Regions from separate parts of the Homo sapiens genome. Here region 2 is linked to region 1. Evidence: fine-mapped expression QTL. A gene starts in region 1. The other region holds a variant in brackets. All regions are shown on one strand. Distances are from middle to middle. Region 1 holds the start of TGFBR1 (transforming growth factor beta receptor 1). Region 2 overlaps COL15A1 (collagen type XV alpha 1 chain).

Region 1 (2,908 bases):
GGTACTTAACGTGTCTGTACCCCACTTTGCACATCTGTAAAGTGGGGCAAATGCCACTACTCCTGGGAGTTTACTTGTGGTGATTAAATAATGTAATTATACAATAGTGTATGCATTTACATCGTAGTAATGCACAATACATAGACGGTAGCTATTAGGACTGATTATAATCGTCACCGTCAGTCTTGATTTTTTAAAAAAATTTCAACATCTTTTGTCCAGTTTCAGAAACAGAAATGTACTTTCACTGCATTTTAGTTGCTAACACTGAGGCTGTGTATTTTAGCTTCTAGTGTCTCAGTTCAGCTGCTAACGAAGTTTTTCACTCATCCCTTTGTGGATACCAACCACCTACCCCAACCTGATTTACTATTTTGAAAAATCCAGCCAACAGTCTTCCTTGAAAACCAGCTATACAGATGTCTGAATCAAACTATTAACTGTCACTCAAGAAAAGGAACAACGTGAGTGATGTTCCTTCGAGGAAATAAAAAGCGTTTAATCAATTCACAGTCGTTCCCAAAATTTCCAAAACCCGCAGAATGAGCAAACGTTCAAGTTTCCACTATGAAAACAATCCGTAGCCGTCTGGTTACTGGACTCACTTCAACACTCCCCAGACGCACGAAAGAAGAAACATTCCGCGCATCTCCGCGCTTCCTTCTTCTCACACAAAGCCCCCCTGGCTGGAGGAGCAGCCCCTTCCAGCAGGGTCGGCTCGGGTCGAGCCGGGCGGGAGTCAGGGCGGCCTGCGGACCCAGGGGTCTCACCACACGTCGCCCCCGACTCCCACTGGACGAAGCCCTAGAGGCTCGGAGCTCACACCCCGCCCGGGAGCCGCCTTCCACCCCAACCTCAAACCCCGCCCCGGGTTCGGCAGCCTCTGGCACGGACCCTCTTGGGGCGGGGGTCCCCAGAACAAGGTCACGCCGTGCCCAGGGGGCGGCGGCGGGCAGCCACGGCTCTGCCAGTCCCCGCCGGCCTCGCACTCTCCGCCCCTGGCCCTCGCCCACTCACACCCCAGAGGGCAGCCCCGGACCTCGGACGACTCCGCCCGACTCCACCTCCCCGGGGAGTCCCGAGCGGGGCGGCCTCGGGCAGCCGGACACGTCCGCCCGCGCCCGGACACACGCCCCTGCCCCGCCTCCGCTCCCCGCTTGCGGTTCGCCCGGCAGCCGCCGAGCCGCGCGGCGCCACGAGAGCCCGGCCCGGGCCCCGGCGCCGCCACCTGCGCCCCCGGCCCCGCGCCATGTTTGAGAAAGAGCAGGAGCGAGCCAGAGGCCGGGTCCGGCCCGCGCGCCCCGCAGTCGCCCGCCCGCCGCGCCGCCGCTCACCCGTCGCCCCCGGGAGCAGCGCCGCCGCCGCCGCCGCCGCCGCCGCCAGCACGAGGAGGAGCAGCCGGGGACGCGGAGCAGCGACCGCCGCCTCCATGGTCCCGCCGCCACCGCCTGTGGCCCGGCCCGGCCCGGCCGCGCCGCTGCCTCACCCCAGCAAACCTCGCCTCGCCCCACCTCCCTAGCCGCCGCGGCGGCCTCGCTCCGGCCCTTTGTAACTGCTCGGAGGACGCGCGTCCATTGGCTGCCGGGCTCCCGCCGGCCCCGCCTCCCCGCCGCCGCGAGCTGCCAAGCGGGACCCAGCCGGGAGCCCCGCCTGCGGGCCCGCCAGGCAGCCAATCCGCAGCCGCGAGCGCCGGTTTCTGGCCACGCCCCACGCTCCCCGGGGGCTGGGCCGCCAGACCCCAGCCCCGGCCCGATCGGCTCCCGGCTCCGAGAGGCCGCGTGGGGGCGGGGTCTGCCAGCCCCAGCACCGCTCAGCCGCTAGCCCCGGAGGGCCGGGTAGAGCGATGGGTGTGTCTGTGTGAGTCTCTTTCGGAAAAAGGCTGTGGCCGTTCGACGCTCTTTTCTTCTAACCTCCTCTAGGCGCGGAAGATCTGGTACTGCCTCAGCCCCACCCTGACCCCATTCACAGCTCCGCATTGGCAATCCCAGCACATGCCACCCAGATCCGCTGCAGCGCCAGGCCCCTGCATCCACTTCAACTTCCCCTCTCCAAGTCCACGCATCAACTTCAGCATTCCCCCGAAGATCCCTCCTCAGTGCCCTTCACATGCGACTCACTCTCCTATTTCCTCCTGCTCCCAGCGGTCACCCCAAACCCAGCTCCCCCACCCAGTTCCAAACCCAGAAAGTCCTCAGATCCCAGCGTCAGACCCAGATCCTGAGCCCAAACACACCCCCAAATAGCCTCCCGCCTCCCTCCAGCACAGATCCAGGATGGGGATCCAAGCCGCACTCCTCTCAAACCCCTTCCCGATCCAGGTTGGAAAGGGAGGATCCCCACCCCAACCCCTCAAAGGAGGGGTTCCCCCTTCTTAGCACCCAGCTCCCGCGGGGCGGAGGGGGAGCAGTCATCATTACTTTGAGCTGTGTCTGACACTGCTGTATAATAATCCTGAGGTGTCACTAAAAACCCAAATAAACTCTACGTTTTCATTCTGAATTCCTAATTTACTGCGAGACGCTCCACCCACCTTCCCTCTGCGACGCCAAAATGAGCTCCAGATTTGTAATTCTTCCTGTCAGACTAGTCCTTTCTTCAGACACAAACACAGCCAAGGAGGCTGTTACGTAGAACAGAGAATATTTTTCCGCAGAACCTTTTAAGGAGGAAATTTTATTTTCTGTGTCATTTGAGCTTAGAATTAAATAAACCTTGATAGCAGGAATCAGAATGGTTCTGATTAATGCCAATTTGTGCACTACTTTAGAGTCACTGGGTGAGCATTTTCCCCACCTGTGAAGGCTTCCTTCCGGGAGATGAAAAGGGAAAAGGCGTGGATATTGGAGCTGGGATCTGAGACCCGCGCGCTTTCTCCCTCCTGTCTAGGACACTTACTTAAGCAAGTCAG
Region 2 (2,908 bases), 75 kb after region 1:
GAAGGCACTTCCACAAAGTCCCATGGCTCTGCCAGGGCACAGAAAACCAGGGACTAAAGCAATTTGCAGGTTCCTTCCAGCTCTGAAACTTTGGGACTCTAGTTGAGTATGAGCCTAAGCAAAGCTCTCAGGATAGATGAGAAAGATGAGGCCATGACGTGTCCGCAAAACTGCCTGCACACAATAGGCAACCCCCACGCAACAATCTCCCCCTTTCTCCTTCACAGACTCGAGCCCATGCTGTTTGCTTGGTAGTTGTGATAACCTTCCTCACGGAACTGGCTGCTCCCATGGGTGAGGTTCATGGGTTTGCTAGGTGAGGGTTTCCACCTGATGCTGGAGGAAGACAAATGCCTCTCACCTGGGGGCATGCGTGGGGCATGGGAAGGGTCCCATCTCTTGCAGTGTTTTCCTATTGGGACACACTACCCAGTTCTTGGCCTAGGAATGGGGATCACAGGGGCTGAGGGTGGTCTGGGCTCCCAGGTGAGGCACCAGGCTCTGGAGGCAGGCTCTGAGGCTGGAGTGGCAAGGAATTTCTGCGAGCAAAGCCCTCCATAAGGTCTCCAGGGGCAGCTTCATGGAAAGTTGGTGCCTCTGTGGCAAAGGAGCCAGCAGGGACACTCCAGCCATTCTGGGGAGATGGGAGGAGAAGGTGTGCTCGGTGAAAGAAGTGACAGCGACTAGGCTCTGTCACCTCCCTGCTGGCCAGCCTCACCAGGGAGAAACTAAGTGTGACCTTCCACCTGCAGTGGAAACATGACTCCAATAACTGGATGCCAATTTTATAGCCTAACCCAGAGGCTACAGTTGCTATGTCTGCTCCTCTTGGGTATGATTGGCTTGTTGCTGGCTGCCCATTGCAAACTGTCTTTAATGAAAGTGCCAATCTTGTGCATCTTTTCAGTAACAAGTCAAACTACCATCAGGATTGTTGTGAAACAGAAACTAAAGTAGCCTCCCTCTAAAAACCTTGTAGCTGCATGGCCGGCTGATCTTGTTACAGAAAATTATGTCCATAAAGTGAAAAACTGAATTGTTTCAGTTGCCTTCCTCATTCCTTTCCAATCAAGAGGGCATCTTATAGAGTTTCAAAGGAAGTTCTAGAAGATATCATGGGCCTTGGTTTATGGTCTTAGATGATTTTATCCAGCTTAGACATGGTAAAAAGAGAGTATCTGAATCCATTCCATTGACTCACAGATAAGATGGCCATCAGCTTGGAACACGAGTAGATTAACTTGTGGGTAGAAGAGTCCACTTTACTGGAACTTATGTGAACAGG[C/T]AGGGTGAAAAGGAGGAGCTCCAATGAACAGGCTGAGGGAAGGCTCCTATTCCCAAAATGGTGATGTTGGAGTTGTACATTATTTCTTAGTGAGAGAATTTTTGTGCAGTGAGGGCATGCATGCAATCTTGGAATTCCAAATAGCAGAGCTGCAAGTATGGTTTTAAAAGTGATGAAATATGAAGGTATCAGTTCACTAATGGAAACATTGCAAAGGAATGAGGTAAAATAGTGCCGTCTGTTACAACATCGTGGTTTAGAATTGATTCAAAATGTTGGCTTACTGTGGTGAATTGGATTTTCTAAGGACATTACTCAATTTCAGCACACAGGAACCTCAAAGAACCTAATGGAGATGAGGATTCTTTTTGCTTGTGTGGCTTCTGAGACAGCACATCTTACTGCCTTGTGGATGTCTGTTGGTTTTCCTTCTGCTGTTTGTAATACTGATAACCAGTTTCTTTTCTGTTACAATTGACTATGGTCTATATGATTTTTTTTTTTTTTTTGAGATGGAGTTTTGCTCTTGTTGCCCAGGCTGGAGTGCAATGGCACGATCTCGGCTCACTGCAACCCCGGCCTCCCGGGTTCAGGTGATTCTCCTGCCTCAGCCTCCCGAGTAGCTGGGATTACAGGTGCCCACCACCATGCCCAGCTAATTTTTTGTATTTTTAGTAGAGATGGGGTTTCGCCATGTTGACCAGGCTGGTCTCAAACTCCTGACCTCAGGTGATCCACCCACCTAGGCTTACCAAAGTGCTGGGATTACAGGAGTGAGCCACCGTACCCAGCCATCTATTTGGTTTTATGGAGGCCTATAATCCAGATGTTGAACCAAACACTTCTGATAATGAAAGAAGATATAAAATAGGAAATTAGGCAACTATTTCAGTGTTTCATTTAAACATGTTGTTAGAAGGTCTAAACCCATTACTGCATCCTAGGCAAAAGCAGCTTACTTCTCTTTTCTTTCTTATACAAGGTTTAGAGAATTGTTCAAAGACCAATTGGGATTGCTTGGAGAAAGGGAAGGTGATGATGATCTAATTGTATTTCTCTTACATCAACGGAAAAGACAGAAGCTGATTTTACAATGACAGTTTGGCAGCTCAGTGAAATTACTCAAAGGCAATTACTGGCAATTCAGCATTCCACAGTAATTCTGGACACTGAAGAAAATTTCCAAGCACAAACTCTTTCCTGCCCAGGTGTCCCAGTACCTTTTGAGACTGCAGAATAACATGAATGACTTAGATTCTGAAAGTAGAAAATCAACAACAACTGTTAATACTAGGTGTGTTCCGAGAACTGAATGGCAGAATCTGCAGTGCAAAAGCAGAAAGGAATGATTTTTCAGAGATCCATCTTCTTCAGCAAGTTCTTCTGCATTCTTTCTAGAAACATTCTACTGCTGAGAAAGCAGGCTACTCCTCACCCATTCCTTCTTGGGCTAAAGATCTTAAGAGTTAGTTGATCATCTTGATTTGGGAAAAATAAAGTAAGGAATATTTCTATCATCGAACTCAGCATAGAATAATCTATTTGATAAATTCTTTTTGAGGTATCATTTAAAAAATATTTTAATTTGTATAATTTCAATACGTTTTTTGGGGAACAGATGGT

The links. PIP is the estimated chance that this variant, and not a neighbour inherited with it, causes the effect.
Region 2: its variant is fine-mapped to the expression of TGFBR1 in tibial artery (GTEx, PIP above 0.99).

What each region holds. Positions count from the first base shown.
Region 1 is chr9:99,103,729-99,106,636 of GRCh38, reverse strand. TGFBR1 (transforming growth factor beta receptor 1) reads right to left here and starts at 1,524. Exons shown (of 9, transcript NM_004612.4): 1 at 1,335-1,524. The coding sequence starts at 1,431. RefSeq lists silencers at 797-1,306, 1,397-1,996.
Region 2 is chr9:99,028,812-99,031,719 of GRCh38, reverse strand. All of the region lies in intron 16 of COL15A1 (collagen type XV alpha 1 chain), which reads right to left. Among named protein-coding and RNA genes, the nearest start is that of TGFBR1, 75 kb to the left of the region's middle. The variant C/T (reference allele first, on the strand shown) is at 1,286.